5 linked regions of the Homo sapiens genome follow. The protein of the gene in region 1 interacts with the protein of each later gene in a biochemical or structural test. Each region holds a gene or a part of one and is shown in the gene's direction. Other genes may lie near its edges. The genes, in order: RUVBL1, ECD, TERT, STOM and NUFIP1.

What was found.
Region 2: the proteins of RUVBL1 (region 1) and ECD form a complex in vitro, tested with the Homo sapiens proteins (one study listed by BioGRID).
Region 3: the proteins of RUVBL1 (region 1) and TERT form a complex in vitro, tested with the Homo sapiens proteins (one study listed by BioGRID and IntAct).
Region 4: the proteins of RUVBL1 (region 1) and STOM form a complex in vitro, tested with the Homo sapiens proteins (one study listed by BioGRID).
Region 5: the proteins of RUVBL1 (region 1) and NUFIP1 form a complex in vitro, tested with the Homo sapiens proteins (one study listed by BioGRID).

The regions. Positions count from the first base shown.
Region 1 is NC_000003.12:128,092,810-128,096,328, reverse strand, and holds part of RUVBL1 (ruvB-like 1), read left to right. Parts: intron 1-3,519. UniProt on the Homo sapiens protein: Possesses single-stranded DNA-stimulated ATPase and ATP-dependent DNA helicase (3' to 5') activity; hexamerization is thought to be critical for ATP hydrolysis and adjacent subunits in the ring-like structure contribute to the ATPase activity.
Region 2 is NC_000010.11:73,161,492-73,165,010, reverse strand, and holds part of ECD (protein ecdysoneless homolog), read left to right. Parts: intron 1-1,060; 5' UTR 1,061-1,073; coding exon 1,074-1,278; intron 1,279-3,519. UniProt on the Homo sapiens protein: Regulator of p53/TP53 stability and function. Inhibits MDM2-mediated degradation of p53/TP53 possibly by cooperating in part with TXNIP. May be involved transcriptional regulation. In vitro has intrinsic transactivation activity enhanced by EP300.
Region 3 is NC_000005.10:1,281,564-1,285,082, reverse strand, and holds part of TERT (telomerase reverse transcriptase), read left to right. Parts: intron 1-2,458; coding exon 2,459-2,654; intron 2,655-3,519. UniProt on the Homo sapiens protein: Telomerase is a ribonucleoprotein enzyme essential for the replication of chromosome termini in most eukaryotes. Active in progenitor and cancer cells. Inactive, or very low activity, in normal somatic cells.
Region 4 is NC_000009.12:121,356,734-121,360,252, reverse strand, and holds part of STOM (stomatin), read left to right. Parts: intron 1-3,519. UniProt on the Homo sapiens protein: Regulates ion channel activity and transmembrane ion transport. Regulates ASIC2 and ASIC3 channel activity.
Region 5 is NC_000013.11:44,982,956-44,986,474, reverse strand, and holds part of NUFIP1 (FMR1-interacting protein NUFIP1), read left to right. Parts: intron 1-3,519. UniProt on the Homo sapiens protein: Binds RNA.

The DNA.
Region 1 (3,519 bases):
TCGTGGTCCTGGAGAACACCCCATCTTCCCATCTCTCAAGCCCAGTGTCAGTATTCCCAGTACCTGGTAGTTTTATTGCTCTTTTGGTTTTCTGTGATCTTGTTTAAACATTAGTGCCTGGTCTCTGCAGTGCTGGGGGCACAAAGGTGGGTGATGAGGGGCCTGTTTTCAAGCCTGCAATAGAGTAGTGTGGGGACAAAGTCCCTGAGGCTGCATGCTCAGGGCAGTGGAGGCAGTGGGAGTTAGAAAGACACCCTGTGGCCCATGAGTATCTCAGGACACAGCTGGAGCCAAACTGAGTTTGAAATAAAAACTGCTGATTTGCCTAACTCAGCTCTGAATGATGGTGGGCCCTATCTAAGATTTTAGTTTGCTTTTAATAGAGAAGCTTTATTATTAAGACTGTCCAAGCTGGGCACAGTGGTATGCACCTGTAGTGTACTCTCTGGGAGGCTGAGGCGGGAAGATTGCTTGAGGCTAGGAGTTTAAGGTTGTAGTGTGCAATGATTGCACCTGTGAATAGCTATCGCACTCCCACCTGGACAACAGTGAGACCTCATCTCTAAAAATAATTAAAAAAAAACAAAACATGCAAACTCTGGTGTTGCTGGCTCTGGGTAAGCCCCACAATGGGGGTTCTGTAGTGCTGTGAGCACTGCAGTATAGCAACAGCCCTTCCCCCTCAGGCGGTTTCTTTCACTTGCAATTAGGAATCGAATGCGTGATTCAAGTCCATGTGGCAGCATCTTGTAGCTACTCTGAATCCCCGTCCGTGATGCTCTCTAGACAAGACCACTGTCATAAGTGCTTCCTAAGTCTTGGAGAGAAAGTGTGTGCCAGATCCAGCATGGCTACTTGGGCAGCTTCTGGAGACAGATGCATGTGGGCCTTATGGCTGGTATGCCTGGCATGCCTGTGGCTGTCTGGACTTGCTTAGCCTTGGCTAGGCCAGGCTGAAGCCTGACAGTGCAGTTGGTGAAAGGGCTCAGCCTTGGACAGATGGTGCCCCCTGCTGGGGAGCTCTGCTAATAGGCTTCCCTCCCTCCACAGTAGGGAACCCAGCCCAGCCCATACCTGCAGAGCCTGGCATCTCTCGTCTCAGAAGTAAGGTCTCTCAGTCCCATCCCACTCAGGACTAAGGTGCACAGAAAGGTGGCCTTGATCTCAGAACCTGCTCAGTGGAGACAAAGCTCTGGTCAGCCTGAGACCCGGGAGATTTGGCCCCAGCCCCATCTGGGCTGATTTGATCAAGGGCTGCTAGAGGTTGTGGAGACTCCTTGCTAGACTGTAGTTACTCAAGTGGAAGGAAGACACTCAGAACATGGATTTTTAGGCAGGTCGGCTCAGGTAACGCAGATTCGGTTGTTTGCTTTGGAAGAGAATTTTGGCACTATGTTCTAGTAGGAAATTTGTTGTAGTGGTGATAATAATGTCAACATGGTAATGAAAAAAGTAATAGCCAACAATAATAGCCATCTGATATGCTTCCCACAGACTCCACCCCTAGAGGGGAACTACAGGGCTTCCTTACCCCCCAGAACCACATCTGATCTCTAGAGCTCCGAAGGAAAGAGAGGGGGAAGGGAGGTGACTAACTGAGGGCTTCCTGTGTGTCAGAAACTATACAGAGCACTCTACATGGGCCATCTCATGTCCTCCCAGGACACCCTGACAACCCTGTGAGCAGTTGAGGTTATCTCCAGACTCAAATGGGAGGTTACCTGCCCAGGCCATAGGCTAGAAAGTGTTGCCACTGGAACCTGAGCCCAGAGGAACGTCTGGGTCCAAACTCCATGCTCTCACTGCTCTCCCACACCGCTTCCCAGTGGACCCTGGGCTGTGAGCGGGGATGGAGCTTTGACGGGGTGCTGCCTGGAGGTGGCAGTGGGGAACTGTTGGATGCTGACAACAGATTGCCGTGAAAATGCAGCCTCCTAGGAGTGTTCTTTCCCAGGTAGTGTACGCTCCCTCTCGGCTTCTTGCCGCTCACCCCTCCCTGTGTAAATGACCCTTGTGGATTGAGCCTCAGAAGTGAGCCCACTCTCTGATGGCCATTGTGTTTTATGGAGCATGCATTTCAGCACAAGCCTGGTTCCCACATGGAAAAATTACAGGCATTGGAGTCACGTGGAAGCTCATGACCCAGGCGAGTTCCTTGACCTCTCTGAATCTTACCATCCTCATCAGGAAATGGGAATATCAGCACCTTTTTTGCAGAATTATGTGAAGAGTAGAAAAAGTGAGTGCAAAGTTATCACCCAGGCCAGCCCTAGAGTATTGCCCTCTTGGAAGCTGATTTCATGCCCCTGCCTGGTCTGCTCTGTGGACATGGCTTGGCCTCAGGGATCTCTGAGAACCCAGCAAGGCATGAAGCCTCTTCATAGCCCCTCCTGACCTTGACAAGCAGCCCCCAAGTCCTTTAGGTCACCTCTCCCTGTGGACAGCTGATGTGGGAGCCGTTCTAGAAGAAGCACCTGTCCCTGGTCCTCTTGATGCTCCAGGCTCCTTCTGGGAAGGGTCCATCCATGGATGACAGGGAGGCAAAGCTCTGTTGCCTTCTTGCCTGGCTCCTCCCTAACTTGCCACCATAAGAAGTCCCTTTCCTTCCAGGCTCAGGATCCTGAACTGTTAGATGAGAGCCCAGCACTGATCCCAGCTTGAAAACTGGGAGATTTTCTCTTCATATTGAGGTATAGCTCCCTGGGATTAGGAGTTCTTGTAGGAGTTTCTCACTGAAAGTCACTTTGTTGCACCAAAACATCAAGACTTAAGAAACAGTATGGACTCTGCTCAGTGTAACCCTGTGGCAGATAGTGTTCCAACAAAAAAAAAAACCAACTTTATGGAGACATAATTCATATAAAATACAGTTTTTTTTTGTGATTTCTAGTGTATTCACAGAGTTGTGCAACCATCACCACGGTCAATTTTAGAACATTTTCATCACCCCAAAAAGAAACTATACCCATCAATAGTCATCGTCCCCTTCTGCACCCTTACCCCCATCCACTGGCAACCATTAATCAATTTTGTCTCTATAGATTTGCTTTTTCTGGAAATTTTGTATAAATAGCACCATATAATCTGGTCTTTTGTGACTGGCTTCTTTCACTTAGCATGATGCTGTAGCATGCGTAGTACTTATTTCTTTTTCCAGCTGAATAGTATTCTATTATATGGAATATTTAATAGTGTATCTTATTTAACCATTCATTAGTTGATGGACATTGGGTTGTTGGGTTATTATGAATAATGGTGCTCTGAACATTTGTGTACAACTTTTTTTTTCTTTCTTTCTTTTTCTTTTTCTTTTTTAAAGTAGAGATGGGGTCTCACTTTGTTGACCAGGCTGGTCTTGAACTCCTGGGCTCCAAGGATCCTCCTGCCTCAGCCTCCCAAACTGCTAGGATTACTGTGAGCTACCACACCTGGCCTATGTACAACATTTTTAAGTGGACATGGTTTTTATTTCTTTCGGTTATGTACCTAGGAGTGGAATTGCTGGGTCCAGTGGTAACT
Region 2 (3,519 bases), on another chromosome or scaffold:
CAGTAGGTGTTAGTGCAGTGTTTCTCGAAATATATTACACATACCACTGCTAGTACAAGGGCAAACATTAAAAATTTCATTCTTCACTTCCAAAATAGGAAAAATATAAAAAGTAAAGATTTTATTCTTACATACTTACTAATTGGGGAATGTGATACTAGATTTCTATTCACTGTATTATATCAAGGTTTCCTTTTAACGTAATTTTAAAGATAAAGTTTTAAGTGTAAAGGGTCATTAAAAATAATATTAGGCCAGATGCCTATAACCCCAGCACTTTGGGAGACCAAGGTGGAAGAACTGCTTGAGCTCAGAAGTTCTAGGCCAGCCTGGGCAATATGGCAAAACCTTGCCTCTACTAAAAATACAAAAAAAGTTAGCTGGGCATGGTGGCATGCACCTGTGGTCCCAGCTACTTGGGAGGCTGAGGTGGGAGGATGGCTTGAGCCCAAGAGGTGGAGGTTGCAATGAGCTGTGATCATGCCGCTGCACTCCAGCCTGGGCAACAAGAGTGAAACTCCATCTCAAATAAATAAATAAAGTTTAAAAAAATTAAATAAATATTACTGTAGGTGGTGTATGGTTAAGGCCAAAACCATGGTGATGGTATGTGACTAAATTTTATTTTTTTATTTTTTATTTTTATTTATTTTTTTTTTTAGTTGGAGTCTTGCTCTGTCACCCAAGCTGGAGTGCAGTGGCATGATCTCGGCTCATTGCAACCTCTGCCTCCTAGGTTCAAGTGATTCTCCTGCTTTAGCCTCCCAAGTAGCTAGGATCACAGGTGCATGCCACCACACCCAGCTAATTTTTGTATTTTTAGTATTTTGTATTTTTAGTAGAGACGGGGTTTCACCATGTTGGCCAGGCTGGTCTCAAACTCCTGACCTCCAGTGATCTGCCTGTCTCGGCCTCCCAAAGTGATAGGATTACATGCATGAACCACTGTGCCCGGCCTAACTAAATTTTAGAAAACAGTGTTCATAGAACCATCTAAAAGAGTTCAGATGTTACTTCTGCATTGTTCTATGTGGTTTATATTTTGGAACTTTAAACATAGTTTTCAAAGAAGAATGGAAGAAACCATGAAGCTTGCTACGATGGAAGACACAGTGGAGTACTGCCTGTTCCTGATACCAGATGAGTCAAGGGACTCAGATAAACATAAAGAGATTCTTCAGAAGTACATTGAGAGAATAATCACTCGGTTTGCACCTATGCTGGTCCCCTACATCTGGCAGAATCAGCCTTTCAATCTTAAATATAAACCTGGGAAAGGTAAGGCTCTTTTACTTGTTTGGATTAGTGTGACTTTTAATGTTATCCTGACAACAGTGATGTGTAATAGTCCACGCTTCATTCAGTGTTGCCAGGAAGAGATTAATACACTAAACTTTTTAGATGAGTAATACTTGTCTATATTCAGTTAGCCTTAAAGCTTTTTTTTAAAAAAAATCATATTAATGAAAACTTTCTAAATTTGCCTTAGGAATTAGCATATACTAAACATTATTAAACTCATGGCTATTCTTTTGAACTTTAGTTACTACACTATGCCATAATGTATCTAAGTATCTATACTAAATAGTTTCAGGCATCTGGCTTTAATCATGGTTCCTTTTGCTGTTACTCAGGATTCCTTATTTTGGTGATGTGTTTGGTAGGCTGCCTTGTTTCATATAGCCATTTTGGTGAGGATCTGAGTGGCTCTGCCCAGCTTATAAAGATAAATAATTGGGCTTTATGACTAATATTTGCCACTTACAAGCATTTTGAGGTTTCTTCATTGCTTCCCTGTGTTGTTGGTGCTTGAGATCTGACCTCTGGCAAAATATGGCACTCTGTCCTGTTATGAGAAAAACCCAGGATTAAACTAGGAGGGAGCGGAGAGACCAAAGAATGACTCGGACAGGTCTATCTTGGCAAGTAGATGAGTTTATTAGGACTTACAGACAAGACACTCCTGGGCAGCATCAGGACAGCTCTAGAAATCCACCCCACCTCCCATATTTAAGTTGCTAGTAAGCTAATTTTTTGGCTCTTTGCCTACTGCGTATATGCAATGACACTGTTTTCCTTGGTATGTTCCCAGCTATGCCCTGCAATGTTTGGGTTCTCAGGACCTGCTCCTCTGCTAGGCATGATGGCTTTGGCTTGCCAGCTGGCCTTTGAAGTTTAAGCAGCAGACATATACCCTTAAGTAGTCTGGTGGGGAACTGGTCACATTACAGTTCTATCATTTCTTATAGTTTTATGAAAATAAATCATGGGTAGGTGACCAAGTCTCTCCTTACACAGTGACTTATGTGAGGTCTTATTTGGGATCAGGAGCCTGGCATCTTGTGATACCATCACAAGATATACCCCCCATGTATACATCACAAGTATACATCACTGTGATACTCTCAGTTTAGTGCGTATCTGTTATCTTTTGGCAACAATTGCTACATATCTTACTGTTAATTTTATTGAACTCTTATTCATTGAAATACATATGATATTTATTGGCAAGAACACTGTCACATTGGTGTAGCACATCTAAAACCAACCCTTTATCCATCCTCTAGAAAACCATTTTTACTGTTTTCTTATCTTGTTTAATGGCATTGCCATCCACCCAGTTATCCAAGCTAGTCAGTAATTCAAAATCATAATCAGTTCCTCACTTCACCATGTTCAGTCAGATGCTAAATCCTGAATGCTTCTAAAATATGACCCCTTCTCTACATCTATTTGGCTTCAGTGTAGACCCTCTTTATCTCTACATCTGGAAAACAACAACAGCCTCCTAACTTACCTCTCTGGTTCCTGTCTTTCTAGTTCCTAACACTGTTGCTGGTTATGTTTGTAAAACACAAATTTGATTGTGTCACTCTCCTGCTTAATATCCTTCAGTAGTTCCCATTGCTTCAAGATGAAATTTAAATCAAAGTCTAATATAGACAAAAATAGTTACTTTAATTGGAGTTCTCTAGTTGAAGAAACTTGAGATCTGGGGTGGGGAGAAGAAGAGTTGGTTGGGCTGTTCTTCTACCTATTGTTTGCCATGGCAGCTCTTGAGACACTCTGTAATGCACTTGTTTGACCTTCATTCTGTTAATGTGGGATATTAACTGTACATTGATTTTCGTGTGTTGAACCATCCTTGCATCCCAGGAATAAATCTCGCTTGGTCGTGGTGAATAATCTATTTAATGTGTTGTTGAATTCAGATTGCTGATATTTTGTTAAGGATTTCTGCATTGATACTCATCAGGGATATTGATCTACAGCTTTCTCATATTGTCTTTGTCTGGCTTTGGTATTAGGGTAATGCTGGCCTCAGAAGGAATTTGGGAATTCCCTCCCTTTTATTTTTTTGGAAGATTTTGAGGAGGATTGGTGTCAAATTCTTTAAATGTTTGGAAGAATTCCCCGGTGAAGCCAGCTTTTCTTTGTTAGGAGCTTTTGGATTATTGATTCAATCTCCTTACTAGTTATAGATCTGTTCAGATTTTTGTATTTCTCATGATCCAGTCT
Region 3 (3,519 bases), on another chromosome or scaffold:
GTGCAGGTCAGGGGTGAGGTCTCCAGGCCCTCGGTGAGCTGGAGGTATGGAGTCCGGATGATGCAGGTCCGGGGTGAGGTCGCCAGGCCCTGCTGTGAGCTGGATGTGTGGTGTCTGGATGGTGCAGGTCTGGGGTGAGGTCACCAGGCCCTGCGGTGAGCTGGGTGTGCGGTGTCTGGATGGTGCAGGTCTGGAGTGAGGTCGCCAGACGGTGCCAGACCGTGCGGTGAGCTGGATATGCGGTGTCCGGATGGTGCAGGTCTGGGGTGAGGTTGCCAGGCCCTGCTGTGAGTTGGATGTGGGGTGTCCGGATGCTGCAGGTCCGGTGTGAGGTCACCAGGCCCTGCTGTGAGCTGGATGTGTGGTGTCTGGATGGTGCAGGTCTGGGGTGAGGTCGCCAGGCCCTGCTGTGAGCTGGATGTGTGGTGTCTGGATGGTGCAGGTCTGGAGTGAGGTCGCCAGGCCCTCGGTGAGCTGGATGTGCAGTGTCCAGATGGTGCAGGTCCGGGGTGAGGTCGCCAGACCCTGCGGTGAGCTGGATGTGCGGTGTCTGGATGGTGCAGGTCTGGAGTGAGGTCGCCAGGCCCTCGGTGAGCTGGATGTATGGAGTCCGGATGGTGCCGGTCCGGGGTGAGGTCGCCAGACCCTGCTGTGAGCTGGATATGCGGTGTCCGGATGGTGCAGGTCAGGGGTGAGGTCTCCAGGCCCTCGGTGAGCTGGAGGTATGGAGTCCGGATGATGCAGGTCCGGGGTGAGGTCGCCAGGCCCTGCTGTGAGCTGGATGTGCGGCGTCTGGATGGTGCAGGTCTGGGGTGTGGTCGCCAGGCCCTCGGTGAGCTGGAGGTATGGAGTCCGGATGATGCAGGTCCGGGGTGAGGTCGCCAGGCCCTGCTGTGAGCTGGATGTGCGGCGTCTGGATGGTGCAGGTCTGGGGTGTGGTCGCCAGGCCCTCGGTGAGCTGGAGGTATGGAGTCCGGATGATGCAGGTCCGGGGTGAGGTTGCCAGGCCCTGCTGTGAGCTGGATGTGCTGTATCCGGATGGTGCAGGTCCGGGGTGAGGTCGCCAGGCCCTGCTGTGAGCTGGATGTGCTGTATCCGGATGGTGCAGGTCTGGGGTGAGGTCACCAGGCCCTGCGGTGAGCTGGTTGTGCAGTGTCCGGTTGCTGCAGGTCCGGGGTGAGTTCGCCAGGCCCTCGGTGAGCTGGATGTGCGGTGTCCCCGTGTCCGGATGGTGCAGGTCCAGGGTGAGGTCGCTAGGCCCTTGGTGGGCTGGATGTGCCGTGTCCGGATGGTGCAGGTCTGGGGTGAGGTCGCCAGGCCTTTGGTGAGCTGGATGTGCGGTGTCTGCATGGTGCATGTCTGGGGTGAGGTCGCCAGGCCCTTGGTGGGCTGGATGTGTGGTGTCCGGATGGTGCAGGTCCGGCGTGAGGTCGCCAGGCCCTGCTGTGAGCTGGATGTGCGGTGTCTGGATGGTGCAGGTCCGGGGTGAGGTAGCCAAGGCCTTCGGTGAGCTGGATGTGGGGTGTCCGGATGGTGCAGGTCCGGGGTGAGGTCGCCAGGCCCTGCGGTTAGCTGGATATGCGGTGTCCGGATGGTGCAGGTCCGGGGTGAGGTCACCAGGCCCTGCGGTTAGCTGGATGTGCGGTGTCTGGATGGTGCAGGTCCGGGGTGAGGTCGCCAGGCCCTGCTGTGAGCTGGATGTGCTGTATCCAGATGGTGCAGGTCCGGGGTGAGGTCGCCAGGCCCTGCAGTGAGCTGGATGTGCTGTATCCGGATGGTGCAGGTCTGGCGTGAGGTCGCCAGGCCCTGCGGTTAGCTGGATATGCGGTGTCGGATGGTGCAGGTCCGGGGTGAGGTCACCAGGCCCTGCGGTTAGCTGGATGTGTGGTGTCCGGATGGTGCAGGTCTGGGGTGAGGTCGCCAGGCCCTGCTGTGAGCTGGATGTGCTGTATCCGGATGGTGCAGGTCCGGGGTGAGGTCGCCAGGCCCTGCGGTGAGCTGGATGTGCTGTATCCGGATGGTGCAGGTCTGGCGTGAGGTCGCCAGGCCCTGCGGTGAGCTGGATGTGCAGTGTACGGATGGTGCAGGTCCGGAGTGAGGTCGCCAGGCCCTGCGGTGGGCTGTATGTGTGTTGTCTGGATGGTGCAGGTCCGGGGTGAGTTCGCCAGGCCCTGCGGTGAGCTGGATGTGTGGTGTCTGGATGCTGCAGGTCCGGGGTGAGTTCGCCAGGCCCTCGGTGAGCTGGATATGCGGTGTCCCCGTGTCCGAATGGTGCAGGTCCAGGGTGAGGTCGCCAGGCCCTTGGTGGGCTGGATGTGCCGTGTCCGGATGGTGCAGGTCTGGGGTGAGGTCGCCAGGCCCTTGGTGAGCTGGATGTGCGGTGTCCGGATGGTGCAGGTCCGGGGTGAGGTCACCAGGCCCTCGGTGATCTGGATGTGGCATGTCCTTCTCGTTTAAGGGGTTGGCTGTGTTCCGGCCGCAGAGCACCGTCTGCGTGAGGAGATCCTGGCCAAGTTCCTGCACTGGCTGATGAGTGTGTACGTCGTCGAGCTGCTCAGGTCTTTCTTTTATGTCACGGAGACCACGTTTCAAAAGAACAGGCTCTTTTTCTACCGGAAGAGTGTCTGGAGCAAGTTGCAAAGCATTGGAATCAGGTACTGTATCCCCACGCCAGGCCTCTGCTTCTCGAAGTCCTGGAACACCAGCCCGGCCTCAGCATGCGCCTGTCTCCACTTGCCTGTGCTTCCCTGGCTGTGCAGCTCTGGGCTGGGAGCCAGGGGCCCCGTCACAGGCCTGGTCCAAGTGGATTCTGTGCAAGGCTCTGACTGCCTGGAGCTCACGTTCTCTTACTTGTAAAATCAGGAGTTTGTGCCAAGTGGTCTCTAGGGTTTGTAAAGCAGAAGGGATTTAAATTAGATGGAAACACTACCACTAGCCTCCTTGCCTTTCCCTGGGATGTGGGTCTGATTCTCTCTCTCTTTTTTTTTTCTTTTTTGAGATGGAGTCTCACTCTGTTGCCCAGGCTGGAGTGCAGTGGCATAATCTTGGCTCACTGCAACCTCCACCTCCTGGGTTTAAGCGATTCACCAGCCTCAGCCTCCTAAGTAGCTGGGATTACAGGCACCTGCCACCACGCCTGGCTAATTTTTGTACTTTTAGGAGAGACGGGGTTTCACCATGTTGGCCAGGCTGGTCTCGAACTCATGACCTCAGGTGATCCACCCACCTTGGCCTCCCAAAGTGCTGGGTTTACAGGCTAAGCCACCGTGCCCAGCCCCCGATTCTCTTTTAATTCATGCTGTTCTGTATGAATCTTCAATCTATTGGATTTAGGTCATGAGAGGATAAAATCCCACCCACTTGGCGACTCACTGCAGGGAGCACCTGTGCAGGGAGCACCTGGGGATAGGAGAGTTCCACCATGAGCTAACTTCTAGGTGGCTGCATTTGAATGGCTGTGAGATTTTGTCTGCAATGTTCGGCTGATGAGAGTGTGAGATTGTGACAGATTCAAGCTGG
Region 4 (3,519 bases), on another chromosome or scaffold:
ATTTTCAAAAAATGCTATCGAGATTCAAAGGAAAGAAAAAGACATATCTAGCTAGAAAACTTGCTGAGAAGTATTTTATTTTATATCTATTCTACTATGCAGGATACTGTGCTAGACATTGAGAATATAAAAGTGAATAAGCAACATCCCTGCCCTCAGGGAGTTTTTACTCTAGTATGTTATGGGAGACTTGGACAGTATTTGAAAAGGCACCAAATGCTGTCAGATAAATAAGTATTTGTGGTCAGTCTGTCCTTGTTTGGAATTCATTTCACCCTGGAAACCTAGACCTGTGTCTGTCACAGAGCCTTGAAACTATCTTTTGCTATAAATAGGCATGGCTGGCATTAAGAGGACTTCCTCTGTAAAAATATCAGATTTCATTCTCACAACTCCAGCCATGCTTTTCAGTTTGGATACTGTCTTGAGAAAGTGCTCAACCACGAAAACATTCTTAATGAGGATTTTTTTTATTGAGGGGTGAATTTGGAACACGGGCTTTGGAGTAAGATGACCCATATTTGAGTCCCAGGTCTTCCATTGTGTGACTTTGGGAAAGTTAAATGTTGCTTTAGGTAACTCATTTGTAAAAGGGATTTAAAAATACCCTCACAGGGCTGTTGTAAGAGTTAAATGAGATACATGTCTAAAGTAACTTTAAAAAATGCCTGGGGTATACACAACCCCTCAAAACAGCCACTGTTGCTATGATCAGTCATGGTAATACTAGATAAAGCTTTCTTCACAAACAGTACTATGGCCCTGCTTTGAATATTCTCTCAATGAATATGTCTGTACCCCCTAAATTATAACTTAGAAACCTCCAGGATTACTTTAGATCATTTTATTTAAGTATACATGAAGACATTTACCTCACACTATAACACAGGATCAGAAAACTACCAAGTCACATACAACCCAAGTACTCACTATATTTCTGATTTTTCATCCTATGTTTTAGAGCACTTGACCTGGGTGCCAACATGTGTCTCTCTTCTCCCATGTTCCCAGCCTGAACACTCTGCTTATTTCTTGGCCTCCTATTTATTCCAAGCCCCATCTTACTGCCATTTTGCCCTTTCTTCTGAGCAGTAACATGTGCCTGGCATACCTTTTCTCCCCTCTGTCATTAAAATAGCTCCTGAAAATACAGCAGAAGCCTTCCAAGTGGTTGATAAGAAAACCTACTATATCCCTTGGCCTTCTCAGTCCCTATGTCCTCTACAGAAAGCAAAAGCAAACTAAAAATGAGGATGACACTTGATACAGAAAATAGGAACACAACACTGAGGTGATGGGAGTTCCCAGGATGATAGTGAAAGCAATTGCAGAATGATAGCCGTGCACACCAGATGAAGGAAGTCCACACAAGGCTCTGAGAGAGAATTCTTCCAGAAGATAAAATTGATAGTATACCTGACCTCTTTGAGAGGAAATTTAGGCAATTGATTTAAGGTTGGATCAATAAGTACGTTGAAAACCGAACAAAGGGAAAAAATAAGACAGTAATTCCAGAAAAAACAAAAATAGTACAGGAAGAGAAAACCAGTGATACCTCACTACTTGGCTTAGCTTTAAATTGCACTTACAAATTCATAATATAAAATCTCATATTGATCTAAATGAAGTTATGATGTAATTATATTGGAAAGCTGGGTATAAGTATGTGGTGGGGGTAACGGGGAGGAAAGAGAACTAAATCTTTTTCTGTAGTAGAAAGTTAATAGTCCTCAAAACTGAAAAAGCAAGAAGTAACAAAACAAGCATTTCCTTCCTTCCTTCCTTCCTTTTCTTTCTTTCTTTCTTTCCTCACTTTGTTGTCCAGGCTGGGGTACATCACAGCTCACTGCAGCCACGAACCCCCAGGCTCAAGCAATCCCCCTATTTCAGTCTCCTCAGTAGCTGGGACTACAGGTGTGTGCCACCACACACAGCTAATTTTTTTTAAGAAGTTTCAAGTAGAGATGGGAGTCTCACTAGGTTGCCCATGCTGGTCTCAAACTCCTGAGCTCAAGCAATCCTCCCATCTCGGCCTCCCAAAGTGCTGGGATTACAGGCGTGAGCCACCATGCCTGGCAGAAGCATATTATTATTATTATTTTTTTTTTTTTTAAAGTAGAGACAGAGTCTCCCTATGTTGCCCAAGCTAGTCTCAAACCCCTGGGCTCAAGGGATCCTCCCTCCTCAGCCTCCCAAAGTGCTGGGATTACAGGTGTGACCCCTGCACCCAGCTGCAAAGCGTATTATTTAGAAATATGGAGGTAGATATCAAAATGGTCAAAATAGCAAATGTTTTTGAGGAGGAGGAAATTGGAAGAGGTGAGCATGGGAATGCCCTTTTTTTGTACTAATCATATAGAATGGTTTGACTTTTTAAACTTTATGCAAGTGTAACTTCAAAAACACAAATGCATAACCACGAAGGCCAAAAAAGAAGGTGAAAGAGAATAGCTACAGGGAAGAAAAATAGGTTACACATTTTATTTATTTATTTATTTTTAAAAATATGATTTAAGGCCGGGCGCAGTGGCTTATGCCTGTAATCCCAGCACTTTGGAAGGCCATGGTGGGCAGATCACTTGACGTCAGGAGTTCGAGGCCAGCCTGGCCAACATGGTGAAACCCCATCTGTACTAAATACAAAAAGTAGCCGGGTGTGGTGGCAGGTGGCTGTAATCCCAGCTACTCAGGAGATTGAGACGGGAGAATCGCATGATCCCAGGAGGTGGAGGTTGCAGTGAGGTGAGACTGTGCTGCTGCACTCCAGCCTGGGCAACAGAGCAAGACTCTGTCTCAAAAAATAAATAAATAAATATATATATATATATCATTTAAAAATATGGTGTGTACACTAGGAAAATTTTCAAAGAATATACCAAAATACCTCTGAATTTAAAGTAATTTTTCCCTCCTTTGTTATACTTCTGTGAATTTTTTGCATTATTACCTTTGTAATCAGACGGAAAAGCTGTTGCATATTACAGGAACAGGAAACAATTAGAAATGTGAGAGGAAAGCCGTGTACAAAGATGTTCACTACAACACTGTTTATAGCACTAAGAAATCAAACAACCTGTGTAATCAGGAAGTGGGCAATAAATGATGCTGCATAAACCTAGTGAAATATTTTACAGGTGTAATTTTTAAAAAGAGGCTCTAAACAACTTTATACTCATATCATATGGTTTTCACCTTTATTCGTACTGTACTCCTAGCTAAAATGCTCTAATGCCTTTTCCCTCTTTCCTTTTTCTTTTCTTTTCTTTTCTTTTGACAGATTCTTCCTCTGTTGCCCAGGCTGGAGTGCAGTGGTACAATCTTGGCTCACTGCAACCTCCACCTCCTGGGTTCATGCAATTCTCCTGCCTCAGCCTTCCCAGTAGCTGGGATTACAGGCACTCACCACAACGCCTAGCTAATTTTTGTATTTTTAGTAGAGACGGGGTTTTATCATGTTGATCAGGCTGGTCTTGAACTCTTGACCTCAAGTGATCCACCTGTCTCGGCCTCCCAAAGTGC
Region 5 (3,519 bases), on another chromosome or scaffold:
CGTGATCCACCCACCTCAGCCTCCCAAAGTGTTGGGATTATAGGCGTGAGCCACTGCGCCTGGCCCCTCCACTTCTAATTGTAGTTCTCTTGCAGTTTCTACTACATCTGAGGTGACTTCCTCCACTGAAGTCTTGAATTCCTCAAAATCGTCTATGAGGGTTGGAATTTCTTCTTTCAAACTCCTGTTAATGTTGATCTTTTGACCTCCTTCCATAAATCATGAATGTTCTTAATGGTATCTTGAATAGTGAATCAAAACCTCCTTTCTAGAAGGTTTTTAATCTACTTTGCTCAGATCCATTAGAGGAATCACTATCTATGAATCACTGTGGATTTCTTTCAAGAACTTTTCATCCAGACACGGTGGCTCACGACTGTAATCCCAGCACTTCAGGAGGGCAGAGCAGGAGGATCCCTTGAGCCCAGGAGTTTGAGGCTGCAATGAGCTATGACTGCACCTTTATATTCCAGCCTGGCTGACAGTGAGACCCTTTCTCAGTAGTTGCATTCACAACTTGGCTAGCCGTTTGGCACAAGAGGCCTGGCTTTTGGCTTGTATCAGCTTTCAACGTGTCTTCCTCACTAAGCTTAATCATTTCTGGCTTTCGATTTAAAATGAGAGACATGTGACTCTTCCTTTTGCTTGAACACTTAGAGACCATGATAGGGTTATTAATTGGCCTACTTTTGAATATTGCGTCTCAGAGGATAGGGAGGCCTGAGGAGAGGGAGAGGAGAACCACCGGTTGGTAGAGCAGTTAGAACATACACAGCATTTATAAAGTTCACCATCTTATATGGCCACGATTCATGGTGTCTCAAAACAATTACAGTAGTAGCATCAAAGATCACTGATCACAGATCAGTATAACAGACGTAATAAAAATGAAAAAGTTTGAAATATTTCGAGAATCACCAAAATGTGACACAAAGACAGCACATTGTTGTTGGAAAAATGGTGCTGATAGACCTGCTTGATGTAGGGTTGCCGCAGACCCTTAGCTTGCAAAAAGCTGTGTAAAACGAAGTGCAGTGAAATGAGATGTGCTTTTATACCTTAAAGGTGGGGACTGCATGATTTACTGAAAGATAGGATATATGGGATGCAAGATAAAGAGGAGAGAAGGATAATTTAAAGTTTTTTTGCCAAACAATTGGAAGGATGGAGTTGCTATTAACTGAGATAGGTAAGAATGTGGATGGAGCAGATTTGGAAGGAAGTCCAGGAATTAAAGTTGGAATATATTTGTGTCAGGTAGAGATATTGAATAGGCTTTTAGCTATTAGTCTACTTTCAGGGGAGATTTGTGGCTGGAGCTATAAATTTGGGTGTTGACACCATATAGATCATATTTCAAGCTACAAGAGTGTTAATTTAAAACCATTCTCCAACTTTGCAGAAAATTCAATTCTGCATTCCATAAAAAATGATGAGTTCATATCCTTTGTAGGGACATGGATGAAATTGGAAGTCATCATTCTCAGTAAACTATTGCAAGGACAGAAAACCAAACACCACATGTTCTCTCTCATAGATGGGAATTGAACAATGAGAACACATGGACACAGGAAGGAGAACATCACACTCTGGGGACTGTTGTGGGGTGGGGGGAACGGGGAGGTATAGCATTAGGAGATATACCTAATGCTAAATGACGAGTTAATGGGTGCAGCACACCAGTATGGCACATGTATACATATGTAACTAACCTGCACATTGTGCACACGTACCCTAAAACTTAAAGTATAATAATAAAAAAAAATTCAATTCTGCATTAAACTGAATCTGAACAATTAGTGTTTTATTTTTATTTTATTTTATTTATTTTTTTAAATAGAGTCTCTTGCTGTCACCCAGGCTAGAGTACAGTGGCACCATCTCGGCTCACTGCAGCCTCCACCTCCTGGGTTCAAGGGATCCTTCTGCCTCAGCCTCCTGAGTAGCTGGGACTACAGGCACGCACTACCACACCTGGCTAATTTTTTGTATTTTTGGTAGAGACTGGGTTTCACCATGTTGGCCAGGCTGGTCTCGAGCTCCTGACCTCAAGTGATCTGCTTGCCTTGGCCTCCCAAAGCACTGGGAATACAGGAATGAGCCATCACACCTGGCCCAAACAGTTAGTGTTTATTGTATGGCAGATGCTGGAAATACGGACTTGGCTGAGTCAGATGAGATATGTTATAAGTATGAATCAAAATACAGTGTGACTGATGATAGAGGCATATAATAGCTGATTTCAGAATGTAGAGGAAATTGGGAAAAGCTTTTGGAAGAAGTGTCTTAGGAGATGTATAGAATTTGGGAAGAGATGTTTCCTAGGTAGAGAAAGAGGTGTCAGTACAAGGCAAGTTCTGGAGATTGCAGGGTTCTGGTGTGACTGAAGCAGAGTATGTGAAAGGTATGGGGAAGGGTAGGGTAAGAAAATAAATTAGAATCTCATGGAAGGTCTCTAGGAAGCTGTCTTAGTCCCTATTGTGCTGCCATAACAGAGTATGACCTGTTGGGTAATATATAATGAACAGAAATTTATTTGGCTCATAGTTCTTGAGGTTATGTCCAAGATCAAGGGGCTGTTGAGGACCTTCTTGCTGCATGGTGACATCAAGAAAGGCATCACATGGTGAGAGAGAGTGAGAGAAGGTCAAACTCATCCTTTATTATTGTTGCTTTTTGAGACAGGGTCTTGTTCTGTGGCCCAGGCTGGAGTGCAGTGGCACATATATGGCTCACTGCAGCCTCAACCTGCTGGGCTCAAGTGATTCTCCCATCTCAGCCTCACAAGTAGCTGGGACTACAGGCACATACCACCAAGCTTGGCTAATTTTTGTATTTTTTGTAGAGACAGAGTTTCGCCAGGCTGCTCAGGCTGATCTCAAACTCTTGGGCTCAAGTGGTCTGCCCGCCTTGGCCTCCCAAAGTGTTGGAATTATAGATGTGAGCCATCATGCCAGCCCCTCCCTCAACTTTTTTTTTTTTTTTATTTGAGACGGGGGGCTGGGTGCGGTGGCTCACGCCTGTAATCCCAGCACTTTGGGAGGCCGAGGCAGGTGGATCACTTGAGGTCAGGAGTTCGAGACCAGCCTGGCCAACATGGTGAAACTCTGTCTCTACTAAAAAATACGAAAATTACCTGAGCATGGTGGCACATGCCTGTAATCCCAGCTACTCGGGAGGCTGAGGCAGGAGAATCGCTTGAACCTGGGAAGCAGAGGTTGCAGTGAGCCAAGATTGTGCCACTGCACTCTAGGCTGGCCAACAAGAGCGAAACTGCATCTCCCCCGCCAAAAAAAATAAAATAAAATAAGAGACAGGGTCAGCTGGGCATGGTGGCTCACGCTTGCAGTCCCAGGACTTTGGAGGCTGAGGCAGGCAGATCGGTTGAGCCCAGGAGTGTGAGATCAGCCTGGGCAACATAGTGAGACCCCATCTCTATACAAAGAATAATTTTTTTAAAAGAGACAGAGACAGGGTCTTGTGCTGTTGCCTAGACTGGAGTGTAGTGGCATGATCATA